Regions from separate parts of the Homo sapiens genome. Here regions 1, 2, 3 and 4 are each linked to region 5. The links come from fine-mapping of genetic effects on gene expression. A gene starts in region 5. Each other region holds a variant in brackets. All regions are shown on one strand. Distances are from middle to middle.

Evidence for each region.
Region 1: its variant is fine-mapped to the expression of PIK3R1 in whole blood (INTERVAL, PIP above 0.99).
Region 2: its variant is fine-mapped to the expression of PIK3R1 in whole blood (INTERVAL, PIP above 0.99).
Region 3: its variant is fine-mapped to the expression of PIK3R1 in monocytes after LPS (Fairfax 2014, PIP 0.95).
Region 4: its variant is fine-mapped to the expression of PIK3R1 in whole blood (TOPMed, PIP 0.99).

Annotation. Positions count from the first base shown.
Region 1 is chr5:68,191,200-68,197,269 of GRCh38, reverse strand. It overlaps LINC02219 (long intergenic non-protein coding RNA 2219), which reads right to left. Exons shown (of 3, transcript NR_105003.1): 2 at 781-900. Among named protein-coding and RNA genes, the nearest start is that of LINC02219, 4.4 kb to the right of the region's middle. RefSeq lists an enhancer at 3,172-3,711. The variant CAT/T (reference allele first, on the strand shown) is at 2,786.
Region 2 is chr5:68,253,118-68,258,117 of GRCh38, reverse strand. All of the region lies in intron 2 of PIK3R1 (phosphoinositide-3-kinase regulatory subunit 1), which reads right to left. Among named protein-coding and RNA genes, the nearest start is that of PIK3R1, 40 kb to the right of the region's middle. The variant C/G (reference allele first, on the strand shown) is at 2,071.
Region 3 is chr5:68,298,145-68,304,214 of GRCh38, reverse strand. It overlaps PIK3R1 (phosphoinositide-3-kinase regulatory subunit 1), which reads right to left. Exons shown (of 16, transcript NM_181523.3): 16 at 2,394-6,070. Among named protein-coding and RNA genes, the nearest start is that of PIK3R1, 85 kb to the right of the region's middle. The variant C/T (reference allele first, on the strand shown) is at 3,037.
Region 4 is chr5:68,277,751-68,282,750 of GRCh38, reverse strand. PIK3R1 (phosphoinositide-3-kinase regulatory subunit 1) reads right to left here. Exons shown (of 16, transcript NM_181523.3): 5 at 3,018-3,149; 6 at 2,022-2,223; 7 at 1,745-1,824. Among named protein-coding and RNA genes, the nearest start is that of PIK3R1, 64 kb to the right of the region's middle. The variant G/A (reference allele first, on the strand shown) is at 2,516.
Region 5 is chr5:68,212,977-68,219,046 of GRCh38, reverse strand. PIK3R1 (phosphoinositide-3-kinase regulatory subunit 1) reads right to left here and starts at 3,291. Exons shown (of 16, transcript NM_181523.3): 1 at 3,098-3,291. RefSeq lists silencers at 2,575-3,674, 3,895-4,114.

The sequences.
Region 1 (6,070 bases), 22 kb after region 5:
TTTAATCAGTATTTTAAAATGCTTTGTAGGTGGTTCTGACATGTAGCCGAAGTTGAAAATAACTGCTCTAGGCATACAGGCCAGAATCCTGATCACAGGCTTACACAATCTTGCCCCCGCTTACTTCTCTTCGCTCGTCACATATCACACCCCCATCCTCTGTTCTCCAGCCATGCTGGTCTTCTTTCGGTTCCTCAAAATCACCACACTCCTTCCTGCTGCTGACTGGGCTTCTGAGCATGTTCTTTCTGTGGAGAACATCCCTGCTTCTTCCGATCTCAGCTCTGCACCACTTCCTTAGGGAAGCCTTCCTTGATCTCTCTGACTAGGTAAATTCCAGGTCCTGGGGTCATCAAACTCTGCACCTTTTCCTTGTGGCATTTGTCACAGTATAGTTTTATATTTATATGTAACTCTTTGAATAATGTTTGTCTTCCCCACTAGAGTATAAACTCCGTGAGGGCAGGGACCATGTTGCCTTTACTCTCCACTGTTATCTCTGCTCTCTATTCTACATTGGGAATGAAGGAGACTCTCTATGTGTTGAGTGATCAAGTGAGCAGTTCGTGATGGGGAGGGTAATGATTACTGAGGGTATTACCGAGGGTAGCCCAGCTGGTTGAGGAATTAAAATTCAGCACCGGCCAGGCGTGGTAGCTCATGCCTGTAATCACAGCACTTTGGGAGGCCAAGGCGGGTGTATCACCTGAGGTCAGGAGTTCGGGACCAGCCTGGTAAACATGGAGAAACCCCCCTCTCTCCTAAAAATACAAAAATTACCTGGGCATGGTGGCCTGCGCCTGTAATCCCAGCTACTCGGGAGGCTGAGGCAGGAGAATCACTTGAACCTGGCGGGGGCGGAGGCTGCAGTGAGCCGAGATCATGCCACTTTACTCCAGCCTGGGCGAAAGAGTGAAACTCGGTTAAAAAAAAAAAAAAAACAACTAATCAGCACCAAGATGTTTATTACAAAACCAATAAAAATATTAAAGGGAAACCCAAGTCTTGAGCGGAATGGACAGTACGAAACTCTAAGGGACATGTGGTTGATGGTTAGGGGAGAGGGTGGAAAAAGGCTCTGGAGAGCGGAAGATCTGGAGGGGAGGCCTCTGACCCAACTGGATCTGGTCTTCCATTTATCCCCTGTAGTATTCTACCTGAGACGCAAGGGGTATGGTCTGAAAGCAGAAAAGAACCTTTGCCCAGTATTCCCATAGGACTTGGCAGTGCAAGGCAGCACCTCTATGGGATCACTGGGCCAGGCTGTGTGTTTGTTTGGGTGACAGAGAGAGGACTCACCCAGCAAAGAAACACCTAGTTTGGTAGTTAGTCTTGGAACCACACTCCCTACTTTCAAATCAAAGTGACCTTAGGACAAGTTACTTATGTTCTCTGTGTTTCTGTTTTCAAATTCTAGCATGGGGATAATAACAGTAACTACCTCACTGCATGTCTAAAGATTATATGGATATAGTCTCTTTGGCATAGCAGTTAAAAATTTAATGAATTCTATCTAAAACAAGCACAAAGATCCTTCTTCAACCATTGTTTTTACAGTTTTATTTCTACTCTAAGAACTCTGCCATGTTTTCCACTTTTGCTTCTGTGTTGGTAGAGCTGCAGTTGGAGCCCGGGTAATTGCATGCTATTAACCTCAACAGCACACAGCCTCCACCATGCAAGCCAAACTTGCTAGCATCCATGAGTAAAAGCTACTGGTTTCTGAATAAGACCAAAGTGAAGCACATTTATGATTCCTGAATTTCATATAAATCATAATTGTGCAGATGATTTGCCTTCGAGCTGCAAACACCAAAATGTGATTGATGTCTGAGAATGTCTGTGAAGCTTTGCTGTAACTCCAAGCCCTATTAATACCTCCGATGACAAGTCTATTAATTCATGAAGTGAAGATGGAGAGCTCGCACCAGCATTCCTTCCTAGGATGGTCACAGAATCAGTAATGTTACATAGAACATCCTCCCTTTGGTTTCATGTTATGAGTGTACATTGTATTCCATACAGGGACAGGGATAAGGGATAATGGGGCAGGGATAAGGGGGGCATCCCATTTATTTGCATGCCCCAAAATGAAATGCTCTGAGCAAAGAGTAAATCCTAAGGAGAACTGGGTACACCGTACATATTTGGTAAAACAGGGTTAACCAGAAAATCATTTCTATTACAAACACACAAATTCTATGAAATTTCAATTTGACTAGTGCTCAACGGAAAAGGAGTGTGATAGTTAGCTTTATATGTTGACTTAACTGACCATGGGATGCCCAGGTATTTGGCCAAAGATTATTCTGGGTATTTCTATGAGGGTTCTTTTGGACAAGATTAACATTTGAATCAGTTGACTCAGTAAAGTAGATTGCCCTCCTTAACGTGGATGGGACTCATCCAGTCAGTTGAAGGCTGAATACAGCAAAAAGGCTGGTGCTACCATGTGTAAGAGGGAATTTCCTTCTGGCTGACTACCTAGAGTTAGAACATTAGTTTTTTCCCCCACTGCATTCAGGTTCTAACAGAAACATTGGCTCTTTCTGGGTCTTCAGCCTGCCAGCATTTAGACTAGACACACCATCAGCTCTTCTGGTTCTCAGGCTTTGGACTCAGACTGGAACTATACTATCAGGTATCCTGGATCTCCAGCTTGCTCACTGCAGCTCTTGTAATGTGCCAGCTTTCATAATCACACGAGTCAATTCCTTAAAATAACTCTCTTGCCCCCTACACTCACACCACACACCACACACACACACACACACACACACACACA[CAT/T]CCTATTGGTTCTGTTTCTCTGGAGAACACTGACCAATACAAGGAGCTTAGAAGGTTTTTCTGCCTTAGTAAATACAGGAGGTCAAATGTTATCGAACTTTTTTTTTTGGTAATGAAGACTCAGAGTATTTTGGAGAAATACTAAACATTGTGAACCTGAGTCATTCCCCATACAATGGTGTTAGGAAAAGAAGCGGAATTAACATGTACTGAGTGCTCACTATAAGCCAGACATTCACACAAACATCAATTCAATGAATTGACTTAAAGAAATGTTGACTGACCTAAGAAATTAGTTCCATATACTAGCTCTATTATTCACCTTTCCTAATAAATATGAAATTTTCCAAATTGAAAAAGTCTTGAATATGGTCCTGATACAAGCTAAGGAAAGAGCCTTCTTTAGTTAAGGGAAGCTTGGCAAACTTCAAAGGAGAAGGTGTGATTTCTTTTCTTTTGTTAATCAACTGGGTGATCACTTTAAAAATACTATACTTCCTGACAAAACTGCATCATTGTGATGCAAAATAGATGACTTGGCATTTTGCATTCCTGACCCCAAAGGGCTGGAACGACGTCTTACATCAAAGTATGATGGGTTGCCCCCTGGAAATACAATGGATCACTGTTGCAGGTTTAGGCAGGCTCAGGGACATCTCCATTTCCTCACAGGCTTTTTGTAAATCACAGGAAGCCTTCTAGACTCAGCACTGCCCCAGACATAGAAACTACAAGATCTTATTGCAAGGCATGAAGAAAGGGTCAGGAAGTTAGTTTTTTTGACCTATATCTGAAGAGAGCAACTTGGAGTCCCACAGCCTCCTGGTGAGATCTTTCTGGGTCTTTTCTTTATCTGCCTGATGGAATAAATAGAAAGGTCAGGGAGGAAAAGAATTCTTGCTGAGATCAACAGGTTGGCAGAAGTATCACTTCCTCACCCTCATGTATAAAAATGACCTAACGCCCACAATGTCCCTGCAATTTTTGATAAAGTCATAACCCCAAACAGTAACCGAGAAAACAATATTTTGTTATGGACAAGAAACAATGCCTGGAATTGCTTTTGATAGCAAAAACCGCAAATACTTTGCACCAACATAATACAACTAGAGACCATACCTTTATCACTTGGTTAGGTCACTTAACTTCTCTGGGCTTCAGCTATGAAACTGGGGTGGGGTGAGGAGGGCTGGGAGGTACAAGGTAAAGGGTGGGACTACAGGATTTCTGAGACTCCTTTACCTTGGGAAAAAAACCAAGGTTTTCTATTATCTATATATATAGTTGTATTATCAGCATGATAAGCCATCTAACTTATCAAAAGAAAAATTTGGCAGCCACAAAATCCCTCCTTCATGTGGATGGCAGGAGTTCATGGCTTGTCAGCCTTTGGTTCAGTTTAACAAATATTTGGCTGCATTTGCTGTAACACATACCCTGTGCTAGGTTCTGGAAGCACAAAATGAACTCAAAAACTACTGGGGTCTTTAGCTAAAGAGAATACATGCTGAGCTGTTTGCGAAGAAAAACACAAAAGCACATGTATGGCAGTTTAAAAATGTATCTGCAAGTTATTTGATACTCCTCCCATCTAGAGAGGTCCAATCTTAGTGACTCAATAGGAAACAGTTGAACCTTGTAGTGATGCTGTGTGATGTCTGAGGCTGGCTGGAAAAAGCCCTTGTCTGATTCTCTTGAGCCTTTCTGGAGAAAGTCTTCCGCCATGTAAAAAGTCTGATTACCCTGAGACAGCCATGCTGGTGTAGATACGCTTATTAGCCTCTGCCAAGCTCACTGCAGACATGTCAACTGCTGGACCTATGGCAGAGCTGGGCCTCAACTGCTGGACCTATGACAGTTGATCCTTATGTCACTGGAGCCAGAGTCAACATCTGACTGCAACTGCATGAGAGAACCCAACAGAGAGCTGCCTGGACTGAGTACTTCCTGAATTCCCAGAAAACCGTGAACAAAATGAAATGAAGGTTTTAAGCTACTGGTTTGGGGGAGTAATTTATTATGTAGTAATTGTTAACCAGTATGGTATCTTCAGTGATATTATTCTTAAGATAACTCATTCAGGCCCTGCGCGGTGACTCATGCCTGTAATACCAGCACTTTGGGAGGTCAAAGAGGGCGGATCACTTGAGGTCAGGAATTCAAGACCAGCCTGGCCGACACGGTGAAACCCCATCTCTACTAAAAATACAAAAATTAGCCAGGTGTGGTGACAGGCGTCTTGTAATCCCAGCTACTTAGGAGGCTGAGGCAGGAGAATCGCTTAAACCTGGGAGACAGAGGTTGCAGTGAGCTTAGATCACGCCACTGCACTCCAGCCTGGGCAACAGAGTGAGACCCTGTCTCAAAAAAAAAAAAAAAAAGAAAGAAAAAAAGATAAGTCATCCAGAATCAAAGTTAATACAGAAACATTTATATTTAATTATTTTCCCCAATGGTTATAGACTATGCTCAAGAAGAGAAAGATAACAATGGTGTAATTGACCTAAGAACCTCGTAAACTGGATCATGCAATGTTTTAAATGACTTTTTTTTTAAGTATAACCTTGAAAAGCAGCTTAAGTTTCTTCAAACTAGAAATATATTCATGGAACATAAGTATTCTGAAAAAACAATATTCAATTTAAGAAAAATAAAACAAAGATGACCCTTTAAATTACAGCTACAGTTGTCTTATTTCACATTATCAGTGCTTTTCAGAACAACTGAATTTTTTGTTTTTGTTTGAAAAAAAAAAGTTATCCTGAGACTTTATTTACTCTAACCACAGTGAAACACATTCTGGTCTGGTGATCAGAGGAAAAATACAGGAAGATAAGCATAGACTCCTGCCTCCCACCCCTCCAGCCAGATTGTGTGGCACATGCTCCTCCCATGTTAAATTCATAGAGATTTTCAATACTATAAGAATTCAAGTACTCTGTTCAATTAAAGGGTGGAGCATGATCCATTTCCCAAGAATAGTAGCTTCATGACTCTATGGACAGAGCGCTTGTCTAAAGATGCAGGCTCTAGTCACTGCAGAAAATGCACTCTAACAGGTGACAATTTGAGGGCCTACCTGAGAAAGCAGCTAAAATTGCCTCTTTATTTTGGTTTCTCTGTTTGCTAAGTTGTAATTACAGCCCTGACCAACCTTAAGAGTCACTGTGACCCCCTCAGGGCTGAGTTTGCACAAAGTCTCCCTCCCATAGTACAAGGGGAGCTGCTTAGGGGGCAGGAGGCAGGGAGAGGTCCATTCCCCATGGTAGGGCTTGGGGGATGT
Region 2 (5,000 bases), 40 kb before region 5:
GTCCTAAAACCTGACTCTAAGTGCATAGACTGAAGCTTCAACCCAGCTCCTAATTGACTCTTCTAAGAAAAAATGTGTTCACAGCTCAAATATCTGCTTCCAGTTTGGATCCCCAAGGGAAAACTATGTCTTCTAAAAAGTCAGGGTGCTATTGTTTTCTCTAAGCATAAAATGTGTTTTGGGTGTCAGAAACTGGAAGTGGCAAGCAGTTCCCAAACTCAGATTATACGATAACATTATAAATAGCTAAAAGGTACTGAATCAAAAATTATTATTCAGGAGAGGCAACAAGAAGATAACAGGGAATTATAGGCAAGGGAGTTTCCTTTGGAAATGTTAGTTCCTGGGGAACAGAGGCTATCTACAGTGGATGTCTGAAAAAGGCAATGAGGAGAGGACAGGGAATTAATATTATAGACATGGAATCTTCTTTGGAAATGACAGTTCCTGGATTTTAAAAGTGCTATATATAGTAAATGTTTGAAAATGTTAAACTACTCTGCAAAAATTGTCTAACAAAGGAAGGAAAACATAACTTTCCAGCATAGGAGTAAAAGTATTAGCAGAACATAATAAATTCAAAGTGTAGTACAGCCCATCTCTCCCCACCCCAACTGGCTGTCACAAATACATTACTCCCCTGTGGGGCCTGCCTTTGCACAGCCAGCCAGCCAAAGGGGTAAAAAGAACAACATTAAACCGTAATTACCGGGGCCTGCCTTTGCACAGCCAGCCAGCCAAAGGGGTAAAAAGAACAGCATTAAACTGTAATTACCAGCCCTTTGTTCATGGGTTACTCCTCCATGGTTATGTCTGCATTTTCATGTGATTTTTGGTAGACAAGACAGGGTGAAATGTGTGGGTCGGGGGAACTTCATGGCTCTTCCTCTGGATGGAGCAGCTATCAGCCACCTGTTCAGATTGCCTTGCGTTATGTACACTTTTACTTGCTCCTATAATTTAAAATGCTGAAGGGAAAAAAGCAGTAAGATTTTAGGGTAATCTGGGCTTGGCTGGGCCAGGCAGCTCTTGCTTCTGTGGTGCTCCCACCTCAGACTGGACCATGAAAGGTCCTGGGTTCCTGGTGGCACATATCACAGTGATGGCTGAGGAGGCCCCATAAAGCACGTCTTCCCTCTCCCTGGAGTGGCCACACCCTGAGACACATGCTCTGTACCACAGGACAAGTACTAATGTACTGCATCCCCGCCACTTGCCAGGTAACCAAGTTAGCTAAAACTGGCCAGGTGAATGTACTAACCTTCTTCAATAGGGCTAGGGCTAGGCCAAACTGAAAAATAGGAGGCTTGTCTTGAGCACTTGTTTTTTCTTTCCCAAACTTTTTTTTTTTTAACCCAGCTTGGCATTATTTTTTGTTCTCCATTATCTCACACTCTTGCTAATTGCCCCTCTCAATCCATGAGACTACATAGTGAATTTTGCACAACTGAGACTAGATGGTCATTCTGGATACCCATGTATGCATACTGTTGGTGCTTCAACAACAATCAACTTCATAAGGTAACAGAAAAGAAGTACAGCAATAATACCTTGAATTTATGTAGCCCTTTAAAAAATTACAAAATGTTGCTGGGTGCGGTGGCTCACACCTGTAATCCCAGCACTTTGGGAGGCCGAGGCGGGCGGATCACAAGGTCAGGAGATCGAGACCCTCCTGGTGAACACGGTGAAACCCTGTCTCTACTAAAAATACAAAAAGATTAGCTGGGCGTGGTGGCGGGCACCTGTAGTCCCAGCTACTCGGAAGGCTGAGGCAGGAGAATGGTGTGAACCTGAGAGGTGGAGCTTGCAGTGAGCCGAGACTGCGCCATTGCACTCCACCCTGTGCGACAGAGCGAGACTCCGTCTCAACAAAAATAAATAAATAAAAAATTACAAAATGTTTTTATACTTTTTTTTTGATATTCAAAGAGAAAAACAGAGTGGGGTGGTCAGAATGGAGAAAGACTCAGATTAATAACCACGTTCAGGCTGTTTTCATTAAAGAACAGAAAAACATCTAGTTTAAGGAATCAAGGTTGCTTTGAACTATGCACTATTTTGAATAAA[C/G]AGATACTTGATGTTAAAGATTTTTGTGAACACGCCCCTATGAATTCAGCATCCCACTCCTTTCAACCAGGTGCTTCAGTAGAAAGAATAAAACCACACCACAAAGGCAGTCAGTTACCAAGCCTGCAAGGCCCATGGCTCTGTGGTTTTTGAAGATATTATCAGCATTTTAATGTGAAACGTCTTGCAGACCCAAAGCCCCAAATAATCACCACTTTTTGGGAATTTGTAATTTTCCAAATGACAACAAGAACATTTATGACTCTGTATATTATAATCTGTCGACTACAAGAGCTATTAATGACAAGAGAATTCCAGTGCTATAGGGAGCAGCTTTTTCACATTGATAGCCGTATGTTTCACTTTCGCCATCTGATTTCCTTCCAAGTTAGAAAAAACAGTGGAGACAATTAAATACTGAGACTGAGAAGTAAAATGAAGCTAGAGCTCAGAAAAGCAAACTTAAGTGTTTTCCTCAACTCCCATTATCTTCACAAAATCACTAACTCATTTCCCCCCCAAGCACTATTTTTGGGGGCAGGGCTTCAAATTAATGCATAGTCTATGAAGGTCATGAAGAAGCAGCTAACAAGTGACATTTGTTTTACCCCACTGCTGAAGCACAGGATGAGGCTGAATCGGAGGCTGACCCAGATAATGATGGTATTGGGATATAGCTTAGTGGAGAATGAATACCTCCAAAGTCTCCCAAACCTGAATCACCATTTGTTCCTTTACAACACTAACTTCCCTTTATCGGTAAGAGTGGGTTATTTCTTATATCCATGGCACGGAAAAATCTTTATCTGACAAAAATTTTGAGAGGACCAAAAAGTGAGTACTTTGCAAATCAGGGACTGAAACAATTCTCCTTTGGTCATTTTAGAAAATCAGATGCTGCTAAATTTCATCACCTACTTAGAAATCTCAGAAGCTCTAATAAAGCCCTGGAGCAACCCAAAGACAAATGTTCCAGGCCATTCCAGATTCATTTCCCTTGAAGGATCTCTCACCAGTAAGTGCAGCCTCTGAGCAGCAGCTCGTCCATTTGCAGAAAAAAAATTGTGGCCTGACTTGTGTCAACTAGGGACAAAGGCAGGAGAAGAATTTGGAGGTTACTCAGTGGAAAATTTAGGAATAAGAATCTGGAACCTTAAGAAACCTTGATTTAATTTAAGATACTGCTTTGTTTGCATCATAAAAAAAAAAAAGAAAAAAAGAAAAAGACTGTACTGATGCAATCTACTCCCCTGTATTATATAAAATTTTAAGACCTAAAAGAAACACGATTATGGGTATGAACCATAACTAAGCATTTCCAAGAGTGTCTTCCCTTAAATCACATTAAAATTGTAAAAGTAAGTTACAACTGGTGACAGGCCACTTATTAGTCCATTCAGGCCAGCTCCAAGATAACAATGACTTTAATATCAAACCAATATTCCATAACCCTCTCTTTAGAATTCTTGACATGAGGTCACTGTTTATTGAAGGCTTCACTAAAATAAAGTCTTTGTAAAGATACCCTTGGGGTTAGAGGCCTAAGATGAAAATACCTTAATATGATTTCTCCTTTATAGAGAGATTCCAATGTCCCAGCCATGGATCATTCATTCCTTTGGGGGTTTTATTTTTTATTTGTTGGAAGAGTAGATGATCCCTCTGGTCCTTTTCAAATCTAAAATCCCATGATTCGAAACTCTTTTCAGTAAACTTCCAATTTTCCATACTAATTGATGAAGAGAGAGAACAAGAGAAGGGGCTTGACCATACAAAACAATGAAACATCTCAACAGTTTATATGTAAGTTAAGGATGCAGAATCATTCTTTTCTTGGGAATAAGTCTCTCCTGGTTTATCTTTGTATTTGGCAACTGCCAGAGAACAGGGAGTTCACAGAGCAATCCTGAGAAGTTTGCTCCAACACTGACTGGTCAACTGATTTATACAACATTCGAGTGTGCAGACTCACATTTACTTGCTGCATTTATGACCAAAGGGCAAACATTTAAAAATCACTCAAGATTCTGGAAAGGTTATAAAATACAAAAAAAAAAAAAAAAAGGGGGTCCACGGGAAAATAAAAAACATGACATTTATTAGCTCTTTTCTTGGAGTGGATATACATGGGTTTATAGTTCATTGTTTTCAGTCATCCTATGACTAAATAAGCTTTCCACCTGCTTAGTCAAGTGCTGAGAGAATATGACTACACCAAAGGATGTATGAAGCATGCATTTAATTTATCATAAAGAACTGTAATAAGGCAAATGTGCGCAGCTGGAACTAACTTGTACCAGATTTCGCCAATCCCCAAGCTCATAGTAGATACTTGCTAACACCTCCAGAAGTTCCGGCTGTTTTTAATTAATAGCTCATGTTGGGGGCATCTTGCCTGACTTACTAGAATGTCATTTTATTTAAAATAGGGTTCTGAACCTTAAAAAAAAATAGATCCCTTTATTTTTAAGTCAAGTAAATGATCCAAATAGAAATTTAAGTTTGGCTCTTTTAAAGGCAGCAATATTTCACATTGAATGTGCTCCCGAGGCCAGAGGAAATGTTCTTTCCTTTCCTAAAATTTCTAGCCAAGTACTCACAAACCCAGTTTCTTCCCAAGAATATTTGTTTTTTTATTTCTCAGAGCCTAGTTTTAAAAGGCTGGAACCTTTCACAAGTCAGAATAATTCCATTTGCTAGCTGGCTCTTTCTCCAAGTCCAGCTTGAATCCTATGGGACACATAAATCCTTGTCTGAAATGTAGGATAAGTGTCATGAAACATGCTAGGAAATTGGTAAACCACAGCTCAAAGCATAAATACAAAGATATAAGCGAAATCTACTCTAAAGTAAAACTATGACAAGCAGAAATACCACAATGCATTAATTCTTTAGCTAAGGTAACAAAAATATTCAAGGAAAAAGTATGT
Region 3 (6,070 bases), 85 kb before region 5:
TTGGCTGCCAGTTTAGATTCGCCTCAAGTGTCACTTTTAAGATGTCAGCAAGAAAAGTATACCCCAATTCGAGGCATGCTTTCACTTGGCCATAGTCACTGGCAACATAAAGGACCATTAGTTGTGGGTTAAAATTGGTGGTCAAGTTGTAAATGGAGAATTGGGGGACTGGGAATCTTCATTCAGCTCACTTAATCACAGCATATGCTCTAGAAGGAGTCCCAGAGGCCCATACCTTTATCTCACAGATAAGGAGTTGGAGGCCTGGAAGGTGCCTTGAATTGGCCCACTTCCCACAGCTGGTTAAAGACAGATAAAAAGAGCAGACTGGGCCTCCTAAACTGCAAATCAATCTGTTTTCTTTTTCCTATGGCCTACATTATGAAAATAAATTAGAAAGTAACATATCACTCATTAATGGTAATGGTTTTTAGTTAAAATGCTAGAAGTACTATTTCAGTAAGCAGGTGATCTAAAGTCGTGATCTTCAAACTTTAGTATACATTAAAATCACTCAGCTTGTTGAAACAGATTGCTGGGCTCCAGTGTCAGAGTTAGTAGGTCAGGGGTAGGGCCTGTGAATTTGTACTTCTAACAGGTTTCCAAGTGATGCTGATGTGAATGCTGTTAGTCTGGGAACCACACTTTGGGAACCACTGGTTTAAAGCAAGCCCAGGCTATTTCCTGTGATTCATCATTGACCACCTGTGCACTGTCTACTAATTGAAAGCCACATGGTTACCTCCCCAGCAAAAAGTTACCAGTGAGCCTTTTTTTTTTTTTTTTTTTGCATTCTCTTGTGCATTTTCCATTGAAAGTCTATTACATTACAGCATAGGGGCAAAGAGCTCTGGCTTGAGAAGCCTATGCGTTCAACTCTGTTCTCAGATGCTGCATGATCTTGAGCAAGTCATCTCACATCTATGCTTGTTTTCTCATCTAAAGAATGGGAATATAATCATCTTACCCAGGTAATTGTGGAAAGAGTAAAACAAAGAGTTTAACAGATAATAATCACTTGATATGTCAGAGACCAGTGTGTGTATGTGGGGGGGGAATTACCCTAGCTCTTACTGGAATAATTGAATGATAATTACTTGAGTGAGGGAAGGGTTCAGAAACCAAATGGGGGTGGTGAGGGAAACCAGACGTTTAGCAACAGCATAAAGCTGCAACCACTTCTTGGGCTGGAGTAAAAAATGGGAGTAGGTAATGTTTCCAGAGCCTTCTCCTGAGAGCTAGAGCAGAGGGGGTTTGCTCAGACCTGAAAATGAGGGTCTATCTGGCAGGAGCTAGAGCCAGGGAAGAGACACCTAGAAGCCCCAGGACAAGCGCTCCAGCGAATATAGTTCTCTGTGATACCAAACAGAGCAGGGGGAAAGCAGAACATCAGTCTGGGAGCTACTGCCATACTCAAAAAATATTAGTCATTGTTGCCCTGAGAGTAATTATTTGTACGTCCCTCTCCCCTCTACTACTAGACTATGTCTTTCAGGTCTAGACCCTCACTGTGTCTACATGTAAACACCATATACATGCAAAGTGGTATTGCCTTAAGTCCACTTAGCAATCAAAACAAATGGGAAAGTTATCCTACAGTAAGACTTGTGTATCTTGACTAGGTGATACAATGTAAAATCTGCATTTGAGGTGTAACTTAGCTCCCTGTCTACAGTCCCATGTCATCCCTGCACTGTGAGTGTTCAAAATATGCAGACTGCACAACAGAGACAAAACTGGACACTTCGTTCTTAGAGGATGATTCTCAAGGTTTGGGTATGAATGCGGAGGAGGCGAGAATTGAAGGATGATGGGCATTCTAGTTTTCCTATAGCGAGAACGTGCCTTGAAGGGACATTACCTAGGTGTATTTCCTCATTTAAGATGGTGAAATTGGCCGGGCGCGGTGGCTCACGCCTGTAATCCCAGCACTTTGAGAGGCCGAGGCGAGTGGATCACGAGGTCAGGAGATCGAGACCATCCTGGCTAACACGGTGAAACCCCGTCTCTACTAAAAATACAAAAAATTAGCCGGACATGGTGGCGGGCGCCTGTAGACCCAGCTGCTCGGGAGGCTGAGGCAGGAGAATGGCGTAAACCCAGGAGGTGGAGCTTGCAGTGAGCCGAGATAGCGCCACTGCACTCCAGCCTGGGCAACAGAGTGAGACTCCGACTCCGTCTCAAAAAACAGTGAAATTATGAAAGACAGCTCATATGTATTACTTACATGTGACCACTCAATGTCCTTCTCAACTTTACAAAAATGAGATACTGTGATAACAATCAAAAGGGAGTGGGTGGGAGACAACAGAAATAGCAGCAACATTTATAAGCCAAAAGGTAGCTGTTTTAGAAAGATTTCTTAGGTGATAAGTGAAATTTCAACCCAAAACTTCAGTTTCAAAACAACCTTTATTCTGTTTGAAGATCTAATACAATGCATTAAAGCAACTTAAAACAAGACATAGCTCCATTGAATCTATAACTTGAACGAAATGTCAAGGAGGCACACTACCCCCACCCCCCACCCCAGTTGCCTTGTGAAGGCAAAGTTACAACTGACCGTGACATCCTCCCTCTCGTCAAAAGACCAACTTTATTTTAACAATGTCATATAAACAGATTTTTAAAAACATTGAACAGATTGTAGCTTTAAAAAATACACAGGTATAAATGAGTTTTTTTTTGTTTTGATTTTTTTAAATACATATATATATGTGCATATATATACATATATGTATATACATATATATATACACATATATATATATATACACACACATATATATATATATATATATATATATATATATATATATATACACACACACACACACACACACACACATATATATATATATATATATATATAGCAGCATCCTGGGCAGCTAATGCTATCTCATGGTGACAAGTTTCATGTTAAGTTGGATAGTCTTTCCAATTGACTCAATTCTATTTCCTCCCCACCCATAATACCAGTATTTTATAGAACTAGCTTTTTAAAAAATAAGAATTTGGCATTTTGGAACTTTGTCC[C/T]ATGTGAGACATTGTGCTTTAAACTGCCCCTTTCTAAAAATGACCCTAAACTCAAACAGATCTCAGTGTCTGCGTTTCAACTAACTTGGATACCATACATAGCAAAAGCACAGTTGTTAAAACCAGCAGATTTTTTCTTCCAAAGGAACATCAGTAGGACTTCCCAAACATGTTACTAGTTCATAACCAGCTATATGACAAAGCAATTGGTTCCCCACAGTGACAGCTCACATAAACACATTTTGACTCGACACACTGAAAACAAGGATTTCCAAGCTAAGCAAGTCATCAGACCAGCTCCCTAAAAGGAGTAACTTTTAAAAACACAAAAAAGCCAAAGAAATATGAACTTCTCACTTCACTTACAAACAATTTTCACCTTTGTAAGACAAAACAAAGCAACCTCAAAGGGAAAAATCCCATACACATAAGTAAGAATTGTACTAGACGTTCGCTTGTTATGTACTTTATGTACTTGAACTCAACAACTACTGTGGATCTGTTTTGGCTGAAAGGTGTACTGGAAACACAGTCCATGCACATATACATATATACATTTATCAAAGGCCATGAAGTTATCAGATGTTGCAAACACATGCTTTTTGCCTTTTCACATGGTTATGATCTCTCGTGTGTGTAATGTGAGGTCCCAATGCTCCCACTTCTACGCCCAATCACAGCCTCACTGCAGCTTAGCTTCTGGCTTTATCTTTAGGATGCTACACTGGGTGGGAAAAACTGACGCATGGATAAAAATCATATATCAGGAGTGCCTCTGCTGTATCTATTCATATTCAGCCGTTCAGACAATATTGTTAGGACTGTCTGATGAAATCCAAAGTGGCCGGCTAGCAAAGTATCTAAAACGACAAATGCGGTGGGCAAGCTACACTGTAATCAAAAAGGCATTGGGCAGAACAGGTCTGGTGTAACTCAAGTCATATGGAATGATGAATCCTACTTTGCTGTTCAATGAAAAGATCTATTGCACTTATGTTTGTGAGATGCAAAAATAAGGCAAATGCCTAAATACCGTATCATCTTGCAAAGAATGTTGAAGCACAAAGATTCACAAAACTGTAGCTTTTAATGAAAATATTCAATCTCAGATCTTATATTTTAGAAATAAAAATTTGTATGTAATAGCATACATGTGCTACCAAAAAAATACCCACAAACCTAGTTTAAAAACTGTTAACTAATTAACTGTTAGACTTGTGTATGATCTAGAAGGATATCACAATAACTTTAAAGCAGAGACGCAGACTAAAACCAGGGAAATCGTCAGTTGTCTGGCGATGAGAGGGAAATGGTCAGATCAGTAGAGTCAAGTTTGAGGGCTAACAGTCTTGCTATAAGACTGACTTTTGCTTAAGTATGAGTAGTTTCATGTAAAGAGGACAAATAATACATTCCACAGATTTTTCACTCAGCTGCAAGACTGATTCTTTCAAAAGGAACAACATTAAAAAACAAAGTAACAGAAAACCCTCACCCTAGTACTTAAACAGAAATATAGCTGTGGGTAAATCTAATATGGAGAAAGAGTAATTTGAAATTGCAAGATTTCATTTAGTCTATTAGGGTAGTGACCATATTATGGTTGCTAATTAGTCTTTATGCCTCCCAACACATGTACAGTTCCTACTGAACATACCAGCTTTTGCATATCTAAATCAGGAAGAGAGACCTCTCACTCCTGCCCTAAATGGGAAACATGATGCTAACGTTTCCTTCTCCCCCCCGTAGTGAAGCACATACAATGATTAGAATGAATGAGAAGGACTGCCACTTGGATTCCTGCAATGACCATGACTTTAGCGAGCTCCACACAGTCCAGAGCAGTGACAGTATGACTGTGTCTATTTGCTTTATGTTCTAAACCAAATGGAAAGCTAGGAGGGTAACCAACATACCACCAAAAGTATTTTTCAGATCATGCTTTTTTTTTTCCTAAAATGAGTATTTGCTGGTCATGATGGATAGTCTAATGTGACAGAGATGATTATCCCTTTAAACCAGTGTTCTAAACAAAGGTGAGCGCTGTTCCAGGAACCCAAAAACAAACTTGGCACTTCCTTCCTAAGAACTGAAATACCTGACCAGTCACACTGTATTAGAGATACAGTAGGTTTGTAATTGTCATTAATTGATAACAACTAGCAAATCAAAGTGAGAGAAGACTGAAGTAGAAGAAGCAACTTCACTTTGCAGTTATTCACTTCTCTGTAAATCATGAGAAAGTGCATATAACCTTGCCTCCCCCTCCCACCACCCCACTTGATACATCCCTTCACTACATTCCCCCTCCCTAGATTCAAGAAGTTCACAATTCTTTATGAAATAAACATTGCCAGGTACCGTATTTTAAGAGTCTTAAAACAACATTGTTGGACTCAGCAATACTTTGTCATATTCATATATCTTTTTCATTTCTTTTTTTTATTGAATAAAGCAGCTTTGAAGCTTATCAGGCACTGCCCAACAAAACAGTCCAAAAAAAATCTGTTATGAACTTTTTAACCTTGGGCTAACAGCCAAGTACTCTGTACAAGAAAAACTGTAAAATATTTCATAGTTTTAATTCTGAAGCCATTTTTTTTTTTTACTGGCATCCTGTACATTTACTTTTAAAAAAGGATAACAAAAATGAATATTAACAAAAATCCGGGACAACAATATTTTCAAGCAACAAAAACTGGGGTGGGGAAGCTTATTCTGAAGGTACATTTAAAACTGAAATAACAACTTAATGAAAATTAAGAATTGCATAGCGCTGTGAATTTAGCCTTCAGCAAAACAAAACAGAAGCTATTTGGTATTGATACAAATCCATCTATTTGATAGTTAGTCATCCAATATTATGTACATATTTTATATACTGAATGTCATTTTAAGTCCTGTTTTCCAAACTCCATTTTTCTGTTGCTGGGTTTTTGTTTTTTGACAAGTTAAACACTTTCTGGCACTTTCTATGACAGAATTTCTTCTGAACATACATGAACTGACATTCTCCCAAAGCGTCCCTTGTGAG
Region 4 (5,000 bases), 64 kb before region 5:
TCCTTTGAAACAGGCGCACCAATTGCTCAGCAGAGAAATGTAGGGTCCTTTGACATATCAAACAGCTTTCCGGGTGGCATTATGAAAATAGTGCAGATACCCGTTTTTACTTTGGTGGAATTAGGATGAAACTAACAAAGGCGTTTAACTAGTTTACACCAGTCAGGCTAATCAAACTCTACCACTGATTCTGCTATACCTTGTGTAGTAGAAATTCTCCAAAATTCCATGTGATAAATTCATTTGTGGGTATCTGTCAAACCCTGTCTGGCTTTGGCTTCCATGTGTCTCCTCTCTCTAGAGGAGTGGCCACTGAAAAGATCAGGACTACCCACTAGCCCTTCACTGAGAGCAGGGTCCAGCTCTACCTAGTCTCTAACATAAACCTCAACTTAAGTGCCATGTGCCACACCCCTACCCCAATTCTTTTCCACTAAGTCCAAAGGCAGCCTCTGAACACCAGCACAGAGCTCCCAAATCCATTCACAGTGACCTGTGTACTCACACGAGATGAAGCCTTTTGGCCAACCCCTGGACTGAAGTCCTAGTCCCTACCTGTTGACAGTCTTCTTTGACGTAGTTTACCTAGAATTCTGGGCACCCCTGTTAAAACATTCTGCTTGCTGTGATTTGGAACATCCCATGCTTGCCTTATCTACTATACCGGATACCTCTCTCTCACCTTTGGTACATTTTGGGCCTGTCCACATAAACCTTTCCCAATACCCGCATCTTCAGTGTTTACCTACCCTATCCTCTATCCTACCTGCTGCAGGTGGGTTTTGAGTCTAGGCCCTGGCCTCTCTTAGGCTGCCCCATCCAGATGCAAGTAACCAAGCCTGGCTGTGCAATACCCAATTAAGAAAAAGCACAACTTAACTCTCCATTGCATGAAGATGAAACTGAGTCCCCATGCCTGCTCATACAGAGATAAATATGGTAATCTGCATATATTACCTATAATAAATATATTCATGGAGTTTCATTTTAAGTTCCAGGCATAAATTAAGACTACAAGCAACACCTTTTACTGGTCCTGAAACTTCACACGTATAGTACCCTAATTACTATTCTAAATGACCAGTGTCGATTAGCTAACTTTTAACTGGTATATAGCAAAATGAGGTTGTTTAGACTTTCCACGGTAGAAGAAAAATACATCAGTTTAAATTAAATGCATTGCTAACATGGTCTACATTTCCTGCTTTGTTAAATGGCTAACTGAACAGCAGCCTGCTTTCAAAGAAGTGTCTGGCTTGCTCGAACTTGCTGCAGGGAACACTGGTTTCATACTGCTTGCATTATTGAAAATGTTTATTTTGACAGGCATTTCTCAGCATACCCACTTCCAAAAAACACATTCTAAAATACTTTAAATTATATAGTAATTATAAATCCCCTACTTTGTAAGTATTAGAAAGAAAAACAAAAATGTCAACAACTAAAATGAACTCCATAAATCTCTTCAACAACCTGAAGCATAAATGTTGAAGGGTACAGGGAACTCTCCAAACTCTCACCTAAAACCAAGATAATTTAAAATCCACAAATGTTGAAACTCGGATAATAATTAACATATACACTACCACTCAGCTATTTTTTCTTTAAATCACAAGGTAACATATTACTACCAACTGTAATTCCATAAGAAGCTGTGTTACTTCAAAGGAGGTTTATAGCCATCATTTTTTAAGGCTCTAAAAAATGAACAATGAGAGAATGTTAAATGCTCAAAAAGCATTACCTGGTGCAGGCTGTCGTTCATTCCATTCAGTTGAGATTAAAATTTCTATAACTTTTATGAGGTTTTCAGTATTATCAGAGCTGTAAGAAAGAGAGTTTATTAGAAACCTTTTCCCTAAAAGCAAACTCATTTTCATTTATATACACTCAAGTGAATGTGTGTGATAGCATCTGCACATGCATCTCTGGAGTAGTATATTCAGAATACATTTTCATGACCAATCCATTTAGGACTACCCTCATCACCCCAAAATACATGTTTGTCTCCTTTCACTTACCTGGCTGCTGAGAATCTGAAAAGCATAGGGCTGAAAATTTCAGAGAGTACTCTTGCATTCAACAGATTTTTGCTGGAGGTTTGAGAGAGCTTGAAGAAATGTTTTAACAAATACTGAAGCGTAAGCCAATACTGATGAGGTATGCTAGGCGACCTAATAAGCTTCTTCAATAGCTGAATATATTCTTCGGAGCTTTGTACTTCTACAAGTTTAAAAAAAAAAAAAAAGAGAAATGAGTAAGCGACTACTTCCAGGTATCAGTGAATAAACACCTAGAAAAGTTCTGCTCTTTCTTCAAGCTATAGGAGTCATTTAAAAAGTTGTTGGGAGAAGCACACAGTACATTTGTCCTTCTCATTAGAAAACGCATTATGAGAAAGTAGAAATCTCAGGTCAAATGGAAATGCAAAAAGCTCAGTGTGTAAAGAAACCACAAGCTGTTCAGGGTGTGCTGGCAGCAACTTACCCAGTATTGAGCAGCTTCAAGTGTGATT[G/A]GCTAACTCAGAGGAGCATCAGATAAGTATCACAGGTTTTAACTTTGAAGGTTACGAACCAGTTTCCTGTCCCCAAAGCACTTAACTGAACCTTATCTCCTAAAACTGAGAGCCATCTTCCCTCAACACATTCTGTTATGGCCACTCAGGAAAGATGACAAGAACATCCCCCATCACTGGATTCTAGTCCCAGTTCCTTGAATCTGACACTAGTACTTGGAAGACCGTGTCCTTCATTGACGTACAAACTTTGTTAAGACCAATAGGTTAACAATGAGCCATTTCTGATTCTGACATGCAGACGGGCTTCCCAAGCAAATGAGAATCTGGGTCTTCTCTTGGATGCTTGGGTGGAGGAGGAAATTTGAGGTGGTATTGTTGGGGGAGGGACAGGTTATTACTACTATTTTCTAACCACTATTTCTATATATGCAAGACATATACAAGCACCTCTACATCTCCATGTATGTTCAATGAGGTTCCCAGAAGAGAAAAAACAAACCTGGAGCTAAAGAAATCATTTCACTGTAAACGGCTGCTGGAATGACAGGATTTGGTAAGTCCAGGAGATAGCGTTTGAAAGCGTCAGCCAAAACGTGCACATCGATCATTTCCAAGTCCACGGAGGGTGTATCTAGGAAACAATTTAAGAAATATTTCAGACATTTATTTTATAGAATACATCAGTTGGGCTAATTTTCTGAACAATTTGACTCACATGTGACAAAAAAAAAAAAAAATAAGGAAGCAATATGAGGATAAATACAAGACACAAAGTATTCGTTAGCCGTACTTCTTGTAGGGGTTGCTCCGGGCATTTGGGGTAGAACAATTTTTCCTGTGGAGGTCTCTCTGACATATTGCAAGCACTTAGGATGCCTGACCCCCTGCCCATGATGCCAGTAGCAGACCTCCACACTTTGGGGCAACAAAAAATAATGCCTTTGTTATGGGCTGAATTGGGCTGCATCTTCAGTGGTTACCTACCCCATCCTCTGTCCCACCCCTCTAAGCCCAAACTCCTAATGCCTCAGAAAGTGACTGCATGTAAGTTAAAATGAGGCCATTAGAGTGGACTCTAATCCAATGTAACTGATATCCTTCTAGGAGGGGAAATGAGGACACAGAGAGAGACACACTAGGGATGCACAGGCACAGAGGAGAAACGCTGTGAGGATGCAGTGAGCAGGTGACCATCTACAAGCCAAGGACAGAAGCCTCAGGGGAAACCAAACATGCTTTTTTCTCGGACTTCTAGCCTCCAGAACCACGAGAAGTAAGTTTCTGCTTTTTGAGATGGAGTCTCACTCTGTAGCCAAGGCTGGAGTGCATCTCTGGTGTGATCTCGGCTCACTGCAACCTTCACCTCCCGGGTTCAAGCGATTCTCCTGCCTCAGCCTCCTGAGTAGGTGGGATTACAGGTGTGTACCACCACGCCTGGCTAATTTTTGTATTTTTAGTAGAGACAGGGTTTCATCATGTTGGTCAGGCTGGTCTCAAACTCCTGACCTCGTGATCCACCCGCCTCAGCCTCCCAAAGTGCTGGGATTACAGGTGTGAGCCACTGTGCCTGGCCAAGTTTCTGCGTTTTAAGCCACGCAGTCTGTGGTAACTTGTTATAACTGCCTGAGCAAACGAATACAGAACCCAAACATTTCCTAACATCCTCTGAGGGTGGTTCTGCCCTGACTGAAAAGGGTTCTAACTAGGAATGGTTAGTCATATAGTAAATGTTTCCTAAAACCTCAACAGGAAAAATTTAAAAATGCATATTCCCAGATTTCCTAAGACTTGAGTTGATATGTCTCAGAATTCATGTAAATGTCACCAACAGAGTGATGGATTCAACAGTAAGATACTACAGACTTTTAGCAACCAATCTCAAGAATATCCATGAAAATAATTTGAACATTTTTAGAATGTTTCTCCCTAATTCTGTCTGAGTATTACTAATCTAACCTGTGGATATCAGACAATCTCAGAAAATAAGATGAGCATACCTGTCCAGTAAATCCCTCAGCTGGGAAACAGGTCAAGCAATCCAATAATGGGGGTAAAACTAATCAATACCACCCTCCAGGCACTCACTACGCATGGCACTCTAAGTACTTGGGTTGGAAAAAGACACAATGCCCAGCAGAAGAAAGGGATGCTAGAAACAAAGATCTGGGGGCAGGGGTGACCATGGGCCTCTAGAAAAGGAGAGGACTTTGGCTGCTGCTGAAGGATGTACACTAGCAATGCGAAGGATAACTTGAGGAAAGTAATCTGGGGACTTGTGTACTCAGTGGAGCAAAGGTGGGCTGATGGGCAAGATACTACGTTTGTAACAGCTTTACTAATGACAGTGTTAAGAATAAATTGGAAGGGAGTGCTGCTAGAAGTAAAACTACCAGATTTAGTTCTCTGAATCAAGGTGATGGGGGTCTGAATTCTAATGCAGTTAGAAATGTACAAAATATTATCGAGACCTCATATAACTCGG
Region 5 (6,070 bases):
TTGCCACTCTTTTAAGCAAGTAACTCCATACAAGTATTGGCAGAATCATGGCAAGTAATCACATTAGGGCATTAGGGTGTACGTAAAGGAGGCATGGGAAAATGCAGTAAATGATATGAATACTTTGAAAATTAATTAAAACCTAGGTTTTGATAAAAAGCTGTGATATAATTTATATTCTGCTTTCTAAAGTAAAAACTAACTTGATAATTCCTTCCATTGATAACTAACTTTCTAGTCTTCCAGGGCTTCATTAAAATGCTTCATTCTCTTGCCTTCACTTGCAAACCCTGTGCCCTGCAAGAGGGAGAGCTGGAGGAGCTCATATGAAACATACAATATCTTTTGCATTGTGTATGCCTTGACGTGAGAGAATTCCAAAACCCAACACAAACATTATCTCAACTGGCTATATTCTACTTGAGCATAAAAATCAATTTTTTTTCAGCCTGCTCATTCACCATCTCTTTATTCAATAAAACATGTATTTTGCAAATCACAAAATGCAAACACAATAAAAGCTGAACTAGAATTGTTCCTATTTTAATGATCATGTGAACAATCTTTCAGAGTAGATGCCTTTTTACAATACTCCCCTGAACGACCAATATGTTGATTGAACATATCAATTTAGGTTGATATGTTCAATCAACATATCAACCTAAAAATTATATGACAGTCATGGAAAAATGTAAAGAAATGGCCAAAACTTTTAACAGTACAAAATTTGGGTTAGTTTGAGTAGGTTTGCATTTACAATTCAAAGTCCTTCAAAAATCACGTTAGGTGAAACTGACATTACCAAAAGATAAACGCATACCACCATCATCACTGTCTATAATCAAAATATGTATTCCTATAACTTATTGTTCCACTTCTGTTTCCCAGAACCAACTTTATTCTGTGAGGATTTCCTGCGCTTAGTATATTTAAACTCAAGAAATCGCTAAAGAAAAAACATTCAATAAATGGGAAACAAAATGCTTTTTACACTGACTATACAGCATCATGGATAGGAAGAGACTCACTGATATCATTATTTTTAAAAAGCAGATAAAACATCAAATAGCAGTGTGTACACTGCAGAGTTCTGTTATGCAACTAAGAACAGGTCCCAAGTCAAGATGAAAGTTAAAAGTAAATGCACATTACACTTTGCAAGCCAGTATCAGATACATTAAACTTTCTCCCAATCATAAAAATCTATCCACTTCTCTGGAAAAAGTAATATGATTATCTAGTACCTACCTGCATATAAAAGCTGAAGAGGCAAGCAGTGACAATACCCAGCAGTTCTGCAAGGCAGGGAGCCTCCTCCACTGGCCTTTCCAACTTAAACCTTAACTCTGAACCAACATTTCTTCCCAAACTTTAGCCGCAGGCACGCGCGCGCACACACACACACACACACACACACCCCCACACATTACTCTTATTTTCTTTATACTGGTCAAAAACACTTGCTTCCTAAAGTTTAATCAACTTTTGCACCTAAGAAAACTCTTATCTGCTTTCTTCTAAACGGTTTTTCAAGAACAGTGTAATCTGTCAAAAAGTTGTATAGCTAGTGAGTTGCTTTTTCTTCCTTTTTCAATGTTAAAAGATACTTGTGGCCTTCTGTGCAGAAGTCACCAAATTCCTAGTAATTCAAACTGTGACAATCTAATATTCTAATAACCTGCTTAAGAAATGAACCTGTCTGCCCACTCCAACCCTTCCTAGCTAATATCTAACCATCTTTAAGGTTGCCAAAACGTAACAGAACTAATGAAGCATTAAAATATAACTCCACATCAAGCCTTGACCAATAAGCTCTGTGAATATCCCTCCTGATTACTAAAACTTGAGCCTCATCACACCAAAATGACAATCTTATGTTGCATTCAAAACCCGGAACTGCTTTATCCATTGGTACTTCGCACTGGCTGACAAAGAGGAAAAGAAGAGAAAAAAGAAAAAAAACCTAAAATCATGAAGCCCCCAAATAAAGAGCAGACTCACACTCGGACACCAACAGCGCTGCAGCTCAAGGGATTAACGGTGGAAGTGAGACCTTTCCGATATTAATAGCGCCCCGGGAAACAGAAGAATTCCCCCAAACCCAGTTGACACACATTCTGCATTCAACACGTAACAGCCATTCTGCATATATCCTTGCATTTCAGGCTCCAATTCTGGTTATCAAAGTGTATTTCTGTACAGGAGTGCCTGGCCAGAGGTTTTCTGTTCTCTTTGTCTTGTGATCTGAGGGGCAGTTTCTGAGCTTAGGTTAGAGCTGTGGTTTCCAGAGAATTGCCCACGATATTTTAGCTCCGGGTTGCAGGCTCCCTGGCTCTCCCCAGCCGGCTCCATATTGCTGGGCAGGTCCCTCCCGCCTCGCCCCACGTTCCAAAAGCTGGATTTCCGGGCGGTTCCAAGACCCCACTAAATATGCCTCCAACAACCTGCCCAAGCTTGGCTGGCAATAAACGCTGAGTTAGGGCCCCAGCGACCAACCGCCCCGAGGCGCACTTCCCCCACCCCGGAAGAGGAGGGCGGCAAACTTCGGAAGGCGGGGGTTAGGGGACGAGCTCCGGGGACCACCGCCGCCTCGCCCGCCCCGGGAAGGGCCCGGGCAGCGACCCTGGCTGCAGCTGGAGGGCCACGGGGGAAGGGAGCGCTCCTTCCCGCAACACGAAGGCAGCGGCCAGGGCGCTCTCCTCCGGTGAGGGGCCCCGGAAAACTGCAGCAAGGCGACAGCGGGGACCCTCCGAAGTGTGCGGTGACGGAGGGTGGGAGGAAGCCCGAGCTCGTCGGCAACTCCGGGGGCAAATGCGACCGGCGGCGTGCAGGACCAGCTCGCAGGAGGACGGGGGAAACGGGAGTCAGGATGGCGGGGATCTCACAGGACGCCGGCCGCGCGCGGGGGTAGTGCTGCCCGGCGGCCAGGAGATGCCGGAGGCGGGGAGGGCCGGTGGCCAGCCCGCTTCCCCCCGGCGGGGCTCTGCAGAAGGAGAAGCCGCTGCCAGTGACAGGAAGAGAGTCGCGGCAGCCGTGCACACATGCACCGCCTCCCCCGCCCGAGCACACACACCCGGGGCTGCTGCTGCCTACCTACCCCGCCCGCCGGCTTCCTTCCTCTGCGGGGCCCGCGCTGCAGCGGTGGCCTCCTGCCCGCTCGGTTCCGACCGGCCTCCAGCCCGGCTGCGACCCGCCGGCCGTGCCCGATCCGTGCTTGCCGTCTCCGACAGCTAGCCTGCCGCCCTCGCCGCTGCCGCTGCTTCCTCCAACTCCGCTCCAGCTGCTGGCGACTCCTCTCCGTGCGCCCGCAGCTCCAGCGCCCGGCGCTAGCCCCGCCTCCGGCCCGGCCCCGCGCGCCCCGCCCCCGAGCCCACACCAACCAGAGCCCGCGGCTCCGCCCCTTTCCGTCCGCACGGCTCGGGCCTCCGAGCCGGCGGCTGGCAGTGGGGGAGCGAGCTCAGGCCTGGCGGACCCTTCCTGCCACCGCCCTCGCCTTCCGCCCCCCAGCCGCGGGGATGCCCCGGGCGGCCGTGCCGCGCGCTGCCTCCGCTGCGGAGTGCTCTGGCTCTACACGTCCCGGGCCCGCCCGGCTGCTGGGCGTCTCCCAGCGCAGAGGCGGAGGGGTTCGGGGAGGTCGAAGACAAGTTCAGACCTCCCTGGAGGCTGGCTGCGTCTCTAATCCGAGTGTCTTTCAGCCAACCCCAGGCTTTTTCGAGCCCCTAGCGCCCCAGCAGAGTGGCTGGGGTGGGGAGGACTCGGATTCCAGAGCTCGCCAAAGCGGAGAGGCCCTGCAATTCCTGGTCTCGCCAGCACTGCCTTCCGAGTGGGCGGAAAACCCGCGGCACCCGCCTGGCGCTCCGGGGGTGAAGGAGGGGTGAAAGGGTGAACCGGAGGGACGGGCGCCCGCAGCCTGCCGCTGGCTAACTCCGGCAGCCTGGCACCGCCGCCTCCGGGAGCCAGGCGGACCCGCGAGAAGGGAAGAGAGTTTTCTGAGGGCGTACGCTGGCTGATGGCTTCTAGTCCTGAGATGACAGAGCAAATGGAGGTCACTCAGGCAGACCACGGGCCCCTCGGCGTTCGCGGAGTCGGGGGCGGGGTTGGCGGGGGGTGGGGTTGGCGCGGGCGGGGGGGGCGGGGAAGCGCAGGTGAATTACATTGTCTCTTAAAGGTGTTAGTTTTGAAATGCATATTCTTCAAGTAATAATTACCTAAGTTGCTCCAGAAAAATTTGATGTTGGTTCAAACCTTCCACTGATGGTAAGATGGAATGCCAGCACCACGTGTGCCACTCTTTCATATTAAAACATGTGAGAATCTGCTTCCTAAAAGCTCTTTCCAGATTCTCCTTTCTGCAGCTTAAAGCCCTGCACCCGCCCACCCTGTTTGCCTAAAGCCCTTTTATAGTTCCCTCCCAGTTTCCTTGCAAGAAAACTCTTAAAAACAAACACACAAAACCTAAGCACTTGGCCTCTGTAAAACGTTGAATTTGGTGGTTTATTCTTGTGGACGTTGGAAGTAGAGGGAAGAACGTCCTAAAATTCATCGCTTATCCTTAAAAAATATCATTTTTAAAGGTGACTCACCTAACAGAAAAGTAAGCTCCACTTTAGGCTATTCAGACACTGGTGTTTCTATTATTCCAAGATGTCTCTTGCAGAGGCGACACAAAAACAGGCAGCTACCCACATCATGTTTAAGAATACACTTTATCTGAAAGCAAATAGGAAATTTACCAAGGTACCTTCTTCACACCTACTGTGTGAAATGAAGGACTTCATGCATTCTCTGTCTGTAAATGGAATGATATACCTTGCCTTGCAGTAGAATTACTTTGATCCAATCCAATAAGCTGAGATGAAACTGCTGTGACCTTCCCAGTATTTCCTTTAGGTTCCGCTCTGAACAAACTCTAACAGTGAAAACCTTGCTAGTTATCTCCTTCTTCTGGAGATAGCTGGAAAGAGTCTTATGCACTATTGCAGTGGGATTCTGTTCACCCGCAAACCTAAAAACAATAAAATTCCCAAATGCACCTCCTCATTTAGACACAGTCTTTAGTAATTTATTTCCAGCATACATTGTATTTCCTTTACGTTTTTTCATCATAAAGAGTGTCCCAAGGGAAGAAAATAAGGCTCTCTTTTCATATACTAAATAAATTCAGTATTTCATTTGTTTTAAACTGATGATATCTCCCCATATCACTAGTATTAGCATTTTTATTTATTTTCACCTTCAATTGATTTCTATGAAACAAAAGCAAAGGCAACAAAACAGCAGTATTCAAGCTTTTTTAAAAATAATCTTTTTATTTAATAAAATCTAGTCTAGAATCCCCAAATACAACTATAAGATAAGAAGTCATGTAACAAGACCAAGAGGCCCATTGCACCACCTCCCTTCCTTCTGTCTAGAACCTCTGGATCCTTGGACTAGAAACATCTGGATCTCCTGAGAATTTGTTGGAAATTCAAATTGTCCTCACTGAATCAGGAATGCTGAGGGTGGAGCCTAGCAATCTGTATTTTAATAAGCTCTCCAAGTGATCTGATGCATGCCCTATGGTTTCAGAACTATTACTCTAAGGCTTCTGGAAACACTGATTGAAAACCTCTGCAATAAAATACTCACATTAAGTACCCAAACACCATGGTTCAATCAGTAATGGCCAAACTGTTGGCCAGCAGGTAGTGACACCAGCAAGGAGCTCGAAATAGCAGAAGATGTACAATTTGCAACGAAAGGGGTGATACAGGGGTGTCACATACAAGGCATAAGAAGTCAAGGACCCCCCAATGTCAAGAAAGGCTGAGTAGCTATAGGCTGAGAAAGAATTCTCCCCAAAGTATGGTAGGATACTCTCATTTGGCATCATCATTCCAGCTACATCAATATTGTGAGTGCTAGAATTAGCTTTCATTAGACTTGAAACCTAAGAATGTATCTTAGGGTTCAAAGCCAATGTGAAATACAAATGGCTTAGACCTTTACTTCTCAAGTGAGGCCCATAGACCAGCAGCTTTGGCACTATGTAAGAGCTTGTTAGAAAGGCAGAATCCCAGGCCCTATC